2 linked regions of the Homo sapiens genome follow. The protein of the gene in region 2 interacts with the protein of the main gene of each other region in a biochemical or structural test. Each region holds a gene or a part of one and is shown on either strand. Other genes may lie near its edges.

Evidence for each region.
Region 1: the proteins of ASPSCR1 (region 2) and VCPKMT form a complex in vitro, tested with the Homo sapiens proteins (one study listed by BioGRID).

The regions. Positions count from the first base shown.
Region 1 is NC_000014.9:50,113,573-50,120,754, forward strand, and holds the start of VCPKMT (protein N-lysine methyltransferase METTL21D), read right to left. Parts: upstream 3,001-7,182; 5' UTR 2,981-3,000; coding exon 2,715-2,980; exon of another isoform or gene 2,608-2,714; coding exon 2,497-2,607; intron 2,340-2,496; coding exon 2,267-2,339; intron 833-2,266; coding exon 713-832; intron 1-712. Other genes in the region: SOS2 (son of sevenless homolog 2), read right to left, coding at 4,772-5,281, 6,703-6,812. UniProt on the Homo sapiens protein: Protein N-lysine methyltransferase that specifically trimethylates 'Lys-315' of VCP/p97; this modification may decrease VCP ATPase activity.
Region 2 is NC_000017.11:81,980,512-81,987,849, reverse strand, and holds part of ASPSCR1 (tether containing UBX domain for GLUT4), read right to left. Parts: intron 4,297-7,338; coding exon 4,182-4,296; intron 2,344-4,181; coding exon 2,243-2,343; intron 1-2,242. UniProt on the Homo sapiens protein: Tethering protein that sequesters GLUT4-containing vesicles in the cytoplasm in the absence of insulin. Modulates the amount of GLUT4 that is available at the cell surface. Enhances VCP methylation catalyzed by VCPKMT.

The sequences.
Region 1 (7,182 bases), on a different chromosome or scaffold from region 2:
TAAGTCTTTTCTAACTATTTCAGACAAAAAGTTTAAAAAACAAAAAAAAAGACCCTAAAAATAGACAGGTATCTAGGTTGGAGGTTTCATAAATATGTAGAGAAAAACACAGAAGTAAAAACTTATCACTTGGCAACATGGGAAAACCCCATCTCTACAAAAAAATACAAAAAGTTAGCCGGGTGTGGTGGTACATGCCTATAGTCCCACTTACTTGGGGGCGGGGGGGGGGGGGGGTGACACTGAGGCAGGAGGATCACTTGAGCCCAGGAGGTTGAGGATGCAGTGAGCCCTGACTGTGCCACTGCACTCCGGCATGGGCTACAGGGTGAAACCCTGTCTCAAAACAAAAACAACTTATCACCTGCACATTTCTATCACGTATTCTCCAAAGGTAATACATACATCATTGAGATGTTCCCCAAAGGCAGCATCATGTTTAATAAACACTGAAAACTGTTCTTAAAAAGGAGTGGCACCCGTATTAACATTCTTCTGTAGCCATAGATCAACTAATTAGAAATGAAATAAAGTATCAGAAAAGATGAAAAAGGGGAGCTTCGTAGAATCATGGGCTGTGAAGATCCTTTCCTCAGCTTCACACAAACAGCATGTTTTCCCCACCCAAAATTACCATAATATACTTGAAGAGTCACATACAGCCCCCCTGAAGGGAAATCACTACAAAGATAATAGAGTACTTAATACTTACCTCAAAATATTTTTTCTCAATTTCTGGATTTTTCCCCATTGTTCGTTGTTCATAACAACATATAATACAAGTTTCAAATCCGCTGATATCTTTTAGAGTTTTCAGCAATGGCTCCAAAGACTATTTAAAAAAGAATATATTTTTTGTTTTTGATTTAAAAATTTTTCTACTCTAAAAGTAGGTTGAGGAGGTACAGGGGTATTTATAGCTCCCCTACAATTTATCCATCTTTGAATCAATCCAACAAAGCACATGTAATTAAAGCTCTAGGCTAGGTGCAGTGGCTCACACCTGTAATATCAACACTTTGGAAGGCAGAGGTGGAAAGATCGCTTGAAAGCAGGAGTTGAAGACCAGCCTGGAGAATACAGCGAGAGACAAACCACCCCCCGCAACACCTTACAAAAAATTTAAAAATTAGCCAGCATGCTGGTGCACACCTATAGTCCCAGCTATTGAGGAGGCTGAATGGGAGGATTACTTGAGCCTCAGGAGCTCGAGGTTACAGTGAGCTATGATCACTCCACTGCACTACAACATGTGTGACAGAGCAAGACCCCTATCTTAAAACAAAAACAAACAAACAAAAACCCCTCTGTAACTAATGATTGGGTAAGCTCCTGTTAACTAAACCATGTACTGATTTTGGTTTCCAGAAAAAGGATTCAGATGACTGCATTTTGGAGTTCTCATGGGAAACAAATGGAATCAACCTTACTCTTAAAAGTTTAATTTTATTTAATCTAATTTGGGATTTAAATAATCAACGATTTCCCTACAAAAGTTAAATCTGACCCTAACTTGGTTCAATGCTAATTATTTTTAAAATAATCGATGCCCACAACACTATACAAACTGATGTTTTTTTTTTTTTTTTTTTTTTTTGAGACAGAGTTTTGCTCTTGTTGCCCAGGCTGGAATGCAATGGCATGATTTCGGCTCACTGCAACCTCCGCCTCCCAGGTTCAAGCGATTCTCCTGCCTCAGACTCCCAAATAGCTAGGATTACAGACATGCACCACCACGCCTGGCTAATTTTGTATTTTTAGTAGAGACAGGGTTTTGCCATGTAGGTCAGGCTGGTCTCGAACTCCCGACCTCAGGTGAGCCACCTGCCTTGACCTCCCAAGTGTTGGGATTACAGGCGTGAGCCACCGCGCCCGGCCCAAACTGGTATTTAAAGAAAAGAACAATGAATTATTTATAACTTAATTCTCAATGTCATGGTTAACATGTTCCGTGGGAACAACCAAGGGAAAAAGAGAGGATTTTGGCTTTTCATAACATCCAATTGGCAAAATCCTTTAAAATTTTTACAGAAGCCTCTAGTAAAATGCATATAACACTTTTCTCAACATGCTTCACCAGGTCGGTATGATAATGATGAGCGTATATACATATGGTCCCTGGTGACTTTTATCTTCTCTTTACTGCATCAACTATAAGGCAAATCCCGGATTCAAAGATGTTAAAATGTGAAGAAACGTGTGCTTTAGAATTCATGGAATAAGGTTCATCTTCTAAGTGAAGAGACTTCGCTCACTGGATACTTACCTCTTCATAGTATATGCAGTCGGCCATCAGTATGAAGTCGGGTGGAGAAGGAAAGCCTTCTATTTCTTCCCCCCTTAAAAATGCCAAACAAATATTTCAATTGTTTTAATAATTCAAAATACTCTTGTTTTATAAAGAACCGGAAAGTCCCCTTCCATCCTTTTAATGAAACGCAATTCAAAACAAACTACAAATCAATATCTTAAAACAAGCTGAAAGGCCATACAAACCATTTCAGTACCTTGGCTTGAACAGAACCAGTGACAAGATGCTTGTTCATATTAATATTCATCTTCAGCAAGTCTTGCAATTCCTCAAGATCGGTGACTACAACATCAGCCCTATAAAATAACGTCGACTGAGGTGTAGGCACAGGGGGGAAAGCCTGTAATCCGGATTTCCCCAGCAAGAAGGCGCCCCCACATCCCGCCCGCCCGCCAGCTCTTACCCGAGGGTAGCAGCCATGAGCCCCACGGCCCCGGTGCCCGAACCCAGCTCCAGCACCGACCGCCGGCTCAGCGCGTGGGCCCCGTCGCCAGAAAACTCGGGCGTTTCCAGGTATTTAGAAAGGACAATGGCAGCGTCCCACACAACGCAACCCACGCCACCGGAGCTATACTGCTGTAGTCGTAGCACTGTACCATCCCGCTTCTCCAAAACTCGCACAAAGCTCCGCAGTGGGTCCTCCAGCGAGGACTCCAGCGTATCCGCCATTGCGCCCGGCAACAGAAAGCGGCGCGCGCAGGGACGTCACATCAACGCGCACCGCCCCGCCCTGCGGCTCCGCCCCCTGCCCGCCGCTGAGTTGGCGACGCAGCGCGCGCGAGTTAACAAAGCCCGGAAGGCAGCGTTACCTGGGCGGGGCCGAGCGTGGGGCCCCTGCTTACCCGACGCGCTTGGCAGCCTCCCTCTACCCTAAATCACACGTTTGGCTTAACGAAGAGGCCGTTTAAATCACTTTCCCAGACAAAACTATTATAATCTGCTCTTTAAAAAACAAAGCCAACCTCAGAGTTTACCAAGTTGGACACTTGATTTACATAGTAGTTACAAGGCTTAAATGCAATCAGCTTCCAAGATCCTACCAAAGATGGCTATAATCTTACAATCTTCCTTTTCAAGTTCCTAGTATGCTCCTAGTTTTTTGTATGAATTCATAAAAGTGGTTGCTAGAAGCCTGCAGCTCACATTTAACAGTGAAGAAAAAATTGTGTGTGTGTGTGTGTGTGTCTATAGGACTCAACAATCTCCCCCTTTGTTCCTTATAATGAAAACACATATTTTAAAAGTCTTTTAAAAATTAAGACTGGGGTGATTTATTAATCTTGTTAAGAACTCTGATACAAAGCACAGTAAAAGGCCACAAACCAGTAAATAAACAACGTGGCTTTTGGCTACTTTACAACTGCTGCTACAGCACTATCAGCAAAACACTCTATCACTTTGAACGAAGGCATCCAAATGGCAAATAAAAGCTTTACTCACTTATCTGATTAAAATGTTTAATAAAGCTTTAAGTATTTGCTGGTTTAAATATTACCAATCTAAAAAATATATTTAAAAAAAATTTCAGTTAACACGAGATTTATAGAGAAAGTTACTAGGTCTTGAAGGCAAGGCAGTTGGTTCCTATGCCATAGAATTTTTTTTGAATTTATGAATTAGTAAAGTAGCAGATTGTATTATAGGCCTCAAGTCACTTAAATTTATATAGGTTATTAGCAGTATCTTTAAATATACAATATAAACAAAACTGTACATACATGGCATATTAACTGTTTTCCATAACAATAGGCAATTCATTAGCTAAAGACGTCATAGTCTGCAAAAACAAAAGGCACATCTGAATGAGATACATGCCCTTTTTCCCTCCATCATTGGGTTATGTAGTCTTTGTTTACATTTTGACAAAATAATAAACACTTACAGTGCCATTCTATTATTTTCATCCTACTTTTCATTTTTGTCTTCAGCAGCAAATACCGGCATTTAAGACATGGCATTAAAGAGTTTAAGAACAGTTGGTGTTATTCACAATTCTCCTAGATGTAAAAACTAGAAGTAAAAACTAGAAGATGGTCAAAGAGGTTTAAAAATCAGTAACACCATATACCCCTCCCATATTTGTGTAAATTCACTGCCTTAAAAAGGCATCTATTACTCAAATTTGAAAAATTTCACAAAAGCACTATCCCTTTTCAGTGCAATCATGTCACTTTAAACCATATTTTTGCAGAGTTTACAGTGCAAATATAAATTCTTTATACTGGCCTTTTGGCAGCACTGAGGATCCAAGACAAGGCAATGCTACTGATCACCTGAGGATAATGGTGAAGGACTTTTGTATTTTTATTTTTCCAATTCTTAAAAGCTTATTTGATCAGTAGCATTTTTGTAAGAGCATTATTTGTAAAAAGTACTAAAATACTATGTCTTTTTTTGAATAAATTAAAAAAAAAACTTTACAAATACCATTCCAGTGTCAATGACTACATATGGCTAAGGTCATTGGGGAGTTTCTGCATTTTCTAGCAAAGGCAGTCTGTACAATGGGGGGTGCGAAAGCTCCCGTTTGTAAGTCTTTGGTGGCAGTTTTGGCAGATGAGGGCTTGAATTCTGCCTTGGTGGAACAGGGGGAGCTGGAGGATGAGCAAGATTATTCTGACTAGAACTGAGCACATAGCATCGACGCGGTACCCTTGGAGAGGGTGTGCTAGGAGGAGTGCTTGGCGAATTTGGACACGTACTAATGTCTCTGAGCCAGTCTGAATCTCTGTGAAGATGCCCCAGTGGAGGTGGCTGAAGATTAAATGGACAGTTTATAAAGTGTTCTGGAGGCCGAAGGGGAACTGGTGGAGGGGTATCAGGAAGAGGATCTCTTGGTGGTGGCGGAGGTGGACTATGCAGAGGCCCATCAAATGCACCAGTAGGAACAGGAACTCTGGGTTTTACCTTTGGAGGAGGAGGCTGTCTCGGTGGAATAGCAGGAGGATCATCATCAGATTTCATATTTCCCTCAAAAAAAAAAGTAATTAAATTATACCTCTATTCTGAAAAATTAAAAAAAAAAATTTTTAAGTCTGAAAAATTCTTACTTGTCAAGTTAAATTCAGAGGCTCAAAATAAACTAATCTGGGTTAATTATCAGATTATGAGTACTCCTAGATTAATTCAGGGCTGGGTTTAATATTTTTATATATGAGATGTTTTAATTTAAGTCTTAGGTCCTAACTCTTTATCTTGCTTTGTGTATACATTTCAGAAATTTATGTATTTTAATTATAATAGTAGGTAAGTGACAATAATTTATTGCTTTATAGACATGAAAGGACATGATGTCTAGAGGACTTTAATGTCTAGCTTCTGCTTACTGGGCATCTACTGCTACTTTCTCCAGTGAGGCTTAGAGCAGTAGATCTCAAAGTGTGATCCAGAGACCAACAACATCAGCATCAGTAGGGAACTTGTTAGAAAAGCAAATTCTTGGGCCCCATCCTAGACTACTGAATCAGAAACTCTGGAGGTGTGGCTCCACAGTCTGATTTTACCAAGCCTTTCAGGTAATTCTGATGCACCCTTAAAATTTTGAGAAGCATTAGTTGAAAGTTTGAAGAATACTTGGAATACTACTGAAGTTTTTTTCCACCTGTACCAGAAAGAAAATGTACTTCCAGCCTCTTTTTTATTTTTTTATTTTTATTTTTAGTTTTTGAGACAGAGTCTTGCTCTGTCGCCCAGGCTGGAGTGCAATGGTGCGATCTTGGCTCACTGCAACCTACCTTCACCTCCCAGGTTCAAGTGATTCTCCTGCCTTAGCCTCTTGAGTAGCTGGGATTACAGGTGCCCGCCACCATGCCCGGCTAATTTTTGTATTTTTAGTAGAGACAGGGTTTCACCATATTGGCCAGGCTGGTCTTGAACTCCTGACTTCAGATGATCTGCCTGCCTCAGCCTCCCAACCAGCCTTTTTTTTTTTTTTTTTTTTTTTTGAGACAAGAGTTTTGCAATTGTTGCCCAGACTGGAGTGCAGTGGCACGATCCTGGCTCACTGCAACCTCCAACTCCCAGGTTCAAGCGCTTCTCCTGCCTCAGCCTCCCCAGTAGCTGGAATCACAGGCACCCGCCACCACACCCAGCTAATTTTTTGTATTTTTAGTAGAGATGGGGTTTCATCATGTTGACCAGGCTGGTCTCGAACTCCTGATCTCAGGTGATCTACCCGCCTGGCATGAGCCACTGCGCCCGGCCCAGCCTCTTATTTAGAAAAGGTTTTTATAAGGATTAAACAACTAAAAGTATTTTTCAAATATAACAACCCAAATGCTGAAAAACCATAAATGGTAGCCAAAGTATAATTCACAGACTCTTTATAACACTAGGCATTATTTTGAAGATTCACAACTTTGAATAAGTTGGAGTAAAGTCCTGTTGATTACCTTGGAATTTGAAGCATCATGATCAAACTTTTTTCGAGGAGGAAGAGGAGGAGGAATCAGGGGCTCTTCACTTAGTTTATGTAAACTACCACATGAACTAAAGAAAGACTCTGGGGGAGAAAAAGACTAGTTTAACCACAATTCACAGTATAAGATAAACCTTTATCACAATTTGTGATCGATACTTCTACCATGGCATTTGTCAGACTGTATCAACTATTGGTTTATCTATCTTCCCCCATTAAATTGTAAGCTTTCTGCAGGGAGTGTGTATTTATTTCTGTGTCTCTAGCACCAACCATAGTGCCTGGGGCATGATGGGTACTTCAGCTAAATGAAGGTGTACTATTTAATTATGATTAATGAGATTCTGCTCCCTGAAAAGCCTTTCACAAATCAAAACAAAACATGTCTAAATACACTGTAGTAACTTCCAAAGAAAGACCATCCTAATCAGAGACCTTTTTTTTTTTTTTTTTT
Region 2 (7,338 bases):
TTGAGATGGAGTTTTGCTCTTGTCACCCAGGCTAGAGTGCAATGGTGCGATCTCGGCTCACTGCAACCTCCTCCAAAGCGCCCAAACCCACCCCCACAGCCACCACCAAAGCCAGCTCCAAAGCCACTTCCAGAACCACCACGCCTGGCCAAGCCTGTTGTTTCTTAAACTAAGTTTCACACGAGGTTTACAAAGTCTGTTGAAGAGGCTTATGCTACCACAATGCCGGCCCCACCTCTCCAGACACCCTCGGCCCCTCCCCAGTGGCAGCCCCAGGCCACTCTGGGCCATTTCCTTACCTCCATCCCCATCTGAGGACTGACAGCACAGCCAGGGAGGACGGCCCTCACCAAGCACCTGTGCCTGTGGGAGCACTGGATTCTGTTCACGCCCGGGGGCACCGCCCGGCCCAGGGGCATTTCCTTCCAGACGTTCATCTTTCCTGACTTCTGTTCCCCGCGCTGTTTGGTTTTCTTCTTGCCCTCTGCCACTCTCGTCTCAGGAAGCAGCACAGAGCCAGGGCGCCGGGATCCCTGCTTCTCACCCAGTGCCCACACAGCGCCTGGGGCTGCCTGCCTCCCTGCCCGGCGCCACTCCTGGCTCGGGTCCCGCTCACCCCTGCCCGTGGCTTCGCTTTGCTCTCAGGCTCCGTCATCTCCTGCCTCGGGTCCCGCTCACCCCTGCCCGTGGCTTCGCTTTGCTCTTAGGCTCTGTCACCTCCTGCCTCGGGTCCCGCTCACCCCTGCCCGTGGCTTCGCTTTGCTCTTAGGCTCCGTCATCTCCTGCCTCGGGTCCCGCTCACCCCTGCCCGTGGCTTTGGCTTTGCTCTTAGGCTCCGTCACTGTTGTCTGAGTTCCGTTTTGGGAGGGAGAATTCCGTGCTCGTGCTTAACCCGCTGCCATCTCCAGGGGCCTCCATTCACCCCGACAGCCACTGGGGTGGCTTCCATCCCCATGACCACTGAGACCCGACGTGCAGACCTCAGCGCTCTCACCCACGAACGCAACACCCGTGCCATGCAGCGCGGCACTACTGTCAGACGGGAGCAGGCCCAGCCCTGGGGCCACCAAGCGCGCCCAACGCACAGTCACCTTCCCAGCGCCCGACGCGCGGTCACCTTCCCACAGGCCCTATGCTCGGTCCTCAAGACATGAACTCACCCCATCCACACACCAGCCGGGGCACAGGTGAGGAAACTGAGGCCCGGGGAGGGCGAGAACCCCCTGGCTCACAGCAAACCCCAGCCCCAAGTCCCTTCCATTCTGCTGAGCCTTTTACTGTGGACAGAGACTTCCAGCCAACGATGAAAAGACCCAAATTGACAAAGCACCAATTTTTACACATTCAGGAACAACGTTTAAACCATTAACCGACAGAAACTGATACACATCAATTACTTATTTTTATTTATTTATTTTTTTGAGACAGAGTCTCGTTCTGTTGCCCAGGCTGGAGTGCAGCAGTGCGATCTCGGCTCACTGCAACTGCCTCCACGGCTCAAGTGATCCTCCCACCTCAGCCTCTGGCATAGCTGGGACCACAGGCACGCACCACCATGCACTATGCCTGGCCTAACATTTCTATTTTTTGTAGAGAAGGGGTTTCACTATGTTGCCGAGGCTAGTCTTGAACTCATGAGCTCAAGCGATTCGCCAGCCTCGGCCTTCCAAAGTGCAAGCCACTTTGCCCAGCCACTGTGCCCAGCCACTGTGCCCAGCCATCCAATTACTATTAGGAAGATTTTCTGGTGGGGCACAGGAGCTCACACCTGTAATCTCAACGCTTTGGGAGGCTGAGATGGGAGAATTTCTTGAGCCCATGGGTTCAAGAGCAGCCTAGGTGACCAACATAGTGAGACCCTGCCTCTTAAAAAAAAGAGACCTTATGATCCCATCCAGGGGAATCAAGCATGGGGAGCCCTGCCCCCAGCACCGAACGTCTCCCCTTAGTGCTCACCAGGCCCCCACAAGGACAGAAGCACATTCCTGCTCTTCTAGGTGGGCAAGGCTGGGCCGCTGGGCCCAGGAAACTCAGAACGATGAGCTGTGACCAGCCATCCCCGAGGCTGCTGCTCATGAACCGGCAGCCCACACACCCCTCCTCTACAAAGGACTGCAAAGTGCCAAGAGGCACCACAGGCCAGCACAGAGCTTGGGTGTCCAGCTCTGAACCAGACCCAGTAACCACAGCAGCTTCCCCAGCAAACAGGGTAGGGAAGAGCCCCCAGCCCACTGATGCTCACCTGATCTGTGGAAAATGGCTGAGAAGCTCCCAGAGGGTCTGGCCTGAACAGAAAGAGTCCTGCAACCTCGAGCCATCGTCCAGCTGCAAAGCGATGCGAACCTGGAGGGTATAAGACATGAGAAACTTCCTTAGGAAGAAAAGCAACTATTCCTTCTAAATCCCAGACTGATTCTCCAGACACAGAGAGGGTGACTGCCCCGCCCTGGCCTCCAGGGAGAGGCTGACCCCCACGGAGAAGGCTACCCTCCTATTCACTCTGGAGTGAGGGCCTTGGAGGCTCCCCGGCAGGGCTGCACCAGCATGCGTGTGTGCATGTGAGTGTGCAGGTATGTGCAGGTGTGCGTGCGTGTGTGCATATGTGTGTGTGGGTGTGTGCGGGGGTGTGCAGTTGTGTGCAGGTATGTGTGTGGATGTGTGCATGTTGGTGTGTGGGTGTGTGCAGGTGTGCGCATGTGCGTGCAGATGTGCGTGTGTGTGCATGTTTACATGCAGGTGTGTGCGGGTATGTGCGCAGATGTGTAGGTGTGTGTGTACAGGTGTGTGCGTGGGTGTGTGTGGGGGGGAGGTGTGTGCATGTTGGTGTGGGCGGTGTGTGCAGGTGTGTGGGGGGGTGTGCACGCAGGTGTGTGGGTGTGTGCAGGTGTGTGGGGTGTGTGCGGGTGTGTGCGGGTGTGGGGGTGTGTGCACGTTGCTGTAGGGGTGTGTGTGGGTGTGTGTGGGGGGTGTGTGTGCGGGGGTGTGCAGGTGTGTGTGGGGTGTGTGCAGGGGTGTGTGGGGGTGTGTACGGGTGTGCGGGTATGTGGGTGTGTGGGGGTGTGTGTGGGTGTGTGTGGGTACATGCAGGCGCCACAGGAGTGAACTGTGTTGGAGACAGTCCTCGTGTCCCAGTGGGGGCTTCAAAAGATTGCAGCTCCACCGAACCTGACTGCAGCCTCAGGACAGACACTGAGCTAAGCTGCTCCCAGATTCCTGACCCTCAGAAGCCACATGAGATGGTAAATGTTTGCTGCTCTTTTTTTTTTTTTTGAGACAAAGTCTCACTCTGTCGCCCAGGCTGGAGTGCAGTGGCAGCACAATCTCGGCTCACTGCAAGCTCCGCCTCCCGGGTTCACGCCATTCTCCTGCCTCAGCCTGCTGAGTAGCTGGGACTACAGGCATCCGCCACCACCCACGGCTAATTTTTGTATTTTTAGTAGAGACGGGGTTTCATTATGTTGGCCGGCTGGTCCCAAACTCCTGACCTCAGGTGATCTGCCCGCCTCGGCCTCCTAAAGTGCTGGGATTACAGGCTGCCCTTGCGGCATCCATGCAGCGCTTTCGGCTCTAACATTCTGGGCAATTCTATGAGCAGGTGGTCAGGCTGGTGGGTGAATGCTGCTGACACCCTGAGCCAGGGAAGGCACAACTGACCCCAGAAAGAAAGAAAAACTTCCACATGAAGAATGACGTGGGCGGGGCGCAGAGGCTCACGCCTGCAATCCTTTGGGAGGACTTTGGGAGGCCGAGGCGGGTAGATCATGAGGTCAGCAGTTCCAGACCAGCAGGCCAACATGGTGAAACCCTGCCTCTACTAAAATACAAAAATTAGCCGGGTGTGGTGGCGGGCACCTGTAGTCCTAGCTACTCGGGAGGCTGAGGCAGAATGGTGTGAACCCGGGAGGCGGAGCTTGAAGTGAGCCGAGACTGCGCCACTGAGCTCCAGCCTGGGCGACAGAGCGAGACTCCAGCTCAAAAAAAAAAAAACATGAGATGCTCATTTTCAGTTGCCAGTTATCAAAAAACAGGAAGCTGTTTGGGCCCAACCCAGGGAAGGCAGAACTGGTGCTAAGACTCATGTCCCTCCTTCCCCAGCACCCCCCACTGTCCCGTCCCCCGTCCCTGGCCAGCTGAACGATCCTGTGCCCCACACAGTCAGCCTCCCCCAGAGCACGACCCACCATGTTCTCAGGCCCCTCACGGCTCCGGGAAGCGGGCACCATCTCCAGCTTGGCATTGTTGGGCAGGTTGGCAAATCTCCACTGGAGAGAAAGGTCGAGCACGCTCCTCTGAAACCTGCAAGACAGACCAGAGCACACTTGCTGCCCTGCAGAGCCTGACACGCCCTGCCATCCACGCCCCGCCATCCCCGTCCCACCATCCACGCCCCGCCATCCACGCCCCGCCATCCACGTCCTGTGGCAGCTCCCCAACAGCGGGACGTCATGACCTGCAGAGGCACAAGGCGGGTCCCCGATCATATGGGGCCTCCTGCAAGCAGAAGGGAGCAGGAAAAAGGGAGATGTGGGCCTCGGTGCACGCCGAGGGGGCTGCTCCTTCAGAGTCTGGGGTGCTGACAGCCCCAGTGCAGACGCTCGGAAAACACAGAGAGAACGACTGGGGCGTGAACACTGCTGCACTCGCGGAAGCTGGAGTGTCACAGACCCCGGCCGTCACGGCTGGAGCCACCACAGAAAACCTGACTGCCCGGGCGCAGTGGCTCACGCCTGTAATCCCAGCACTTTCGGAGGCCGAGGCAGGCGGATCACCTGAGGTTCAGGAGTTTGAGACAAGCCTGACCAACATGGTGAAACCCCGTCTCTACTGAAAATACAAAAATATCCCATCTCTACTAAAAATACAAAAAAATAAGCTGGGCATGGTGGCTCAGGCCTGTAGTCCCAGCTACTCGGGAGGCTGAGGCAGGAGAATCGCTTGAACCCGGGAGGCAGAGGCTGCAGTGAGGCAAGATCATGCCACTGCACTCCTGCCTGGGCAACAAGAGCAAAACTCTGTGAAAGAAAAAAGGAAAGGAAAGGAAAGAAAAGAAAAGAAAAGAGAAAGGAAGAAAAAGAAAAAGAGAAGAAGAAAGAAAGAAAGAAAGAGAAAACAAGAAAGAAAAAGAAAGAAAAGAAAAGAAAAATCTGAATATACTCAAAGTGGTTGGCCTCACTTTGGAAATGCAAGCTGCTGTCGGAGACAACTAGTGAAGAGAGTTCAGACAGCCCAGGGGCATCTGGAAGAATTAAGAGAGAACAAACTTTGCTATATCAACACTGGCCAGAAAAGTGAGTCTGGAAATTGCCACATGAAATGTCTACGTCAAGACAGGATAGCAGATCGGGGGATCCCGAGGGCAGGCAGGCTGGGAACCTTGGAGCGGAGGGCACTGTTCACGCCTGGGGCTGCATTCCTCTGCACCGGCTGCACTTTGTAAGCAAGTGGTACCATTAGCAGAGGAAAAGGGCACCTGAAAACATGGCTATGGTATTGCAGGACCTGCCTCAAAATCGCACTCACTGGTTCCCACCAGACACCACCACACAGACCACGGGCAGGTGAACACTGAGAAGTAACAATGCGCTGGGCGCGGTGGCTCATGCCTGTAATCCCAGCAATTTGGGAGGCCCAGACGGGCAGATCACTTGAGGTCAGGAGTTTGAGAGCAGTCTGGCCAATGTGGTGAAACTCCGTCTCTACTAAAAATACAAAAATTAGCCAGGCATGGTGGCACAGGCCTGTAGTCCCAGCTACTCGGGAGGCTGAAGTGGGAGGAGTGCTTCAACCCGGGAGGCGGAGGTTGCAGTGTGCCAAGATCGCGCCATTGCACTCCAGCCTGGGCGACAGAGCGAGACTCCGTCTCAAAAAAAAGAAAGAAAAATGAGGCCAGGTGCAGTGGCTCACGCCTATCATCCCAGCACTTTGGGAGGCCAAGACGGGCGGATCACTTGAGGTCAGGAGTTTGAGACCAGCCTGGTCCACATGGTGAAACCCCGTCACTACTAAAAATACAAAAATTAGCCAGGCGTGGCACGTGCCTGTAATTCCAGCTACTCAAGACGCTGAGGCACAATAATCGCTTGAACCCGGGAGGCAGAGGTTGCGGTGAGCTGAGATCATGCCACTGCCCTCCAGCCTAGGTGACAGAGCAAGACTCTGTTTCAGAAAAATGGCCAGGCACAGTGACTCATGCCTGTAATCCCAACACTTTGGAAGACCAAGGCGGGCAGATCACCTGAGGTCAGGACTTGAAGACCAGCATGACCAACATGGTGAAACCCCGTCCCTACTAAAAATACAAAAATTAGCTGGGCATGATGGCGCACGCCTGTAATCCCAGCTACTCGGGAGGCTGAGGCAGAAGAATCACTTGAACCTGGGAGACAGAGGTTGCAGTGAGCCGAGATAGCGCCACTGTACTACAGCCTGTGTGACAGAGCGAGACTCCACCTCAAAAAATAATAAAATAAAAAAGAAATAAAAATGAAACCCTAAGCCCCCCCCAACCAACTGAACCAGCCTCCTCTTGGCCCAGGGGACCCCAGAAACCTTGAAAGCTGAGTTCCTGGCCATGGCTGGGTGGGAGATCAGACACATCTGCAGGCTCTCTTCCCTAAGGGATAAACAGAAAGCAGCCCTTTCCAAAGACCCCTGGGCTGGTATCTGACATCAGCCAACCTCCCGCCAGGCCCTTCTCTCTTGCGGTTTCTTCAAAACAACCCACAGGTATTTCCTGATAAGAAACCACCAACCATGGAGTGGTTCTGGCACAGTCAGGGTTTTCGTGGCACAGTCTTCATGTCCTCTGATTTGCCATTTATTTATTTATTTACTTATTTACTTTTTTTGTAGAGACAGGGTCTCACTATGTTCCCCAGGCTGATCTCGAATTCCTGGGCTCAGGCAATCCTCCGCCTCGGGCACCCAAAGTGCTAGGATTACAGGCATGAGCCACTTCACCCAGCCTGCTTCACCTCTGACTTCAGAGGCCAAAAATTCCACCCTCAGGTCATGCTGGCACTGCCATTTTTTGCACATAGGACCCGTGAAGAGGCAGGAAGCTCAACTGTGTGCACAGTTCTCCTTTCATGAATACTCATGATCCTCCTACAGCGTATTAAGTACGTCTGTATCAGCCACCCCATTCGGTGTAAATCCCTGTCTTATTCTTCCCTCTCTTGAAGTGTCTGTTTCCAGCTTCTGGCTGGAGGCTACACTTCCCAGCCTGTTAGAATGGCCACCCTGCAAGCTGCAACCGGTTATGAGAAATAAAGCCCTCCTTTCCAAACATATGAACCGCATTCTTCAGTTGACAAGAGAGACTGGAGAAGGATGGTG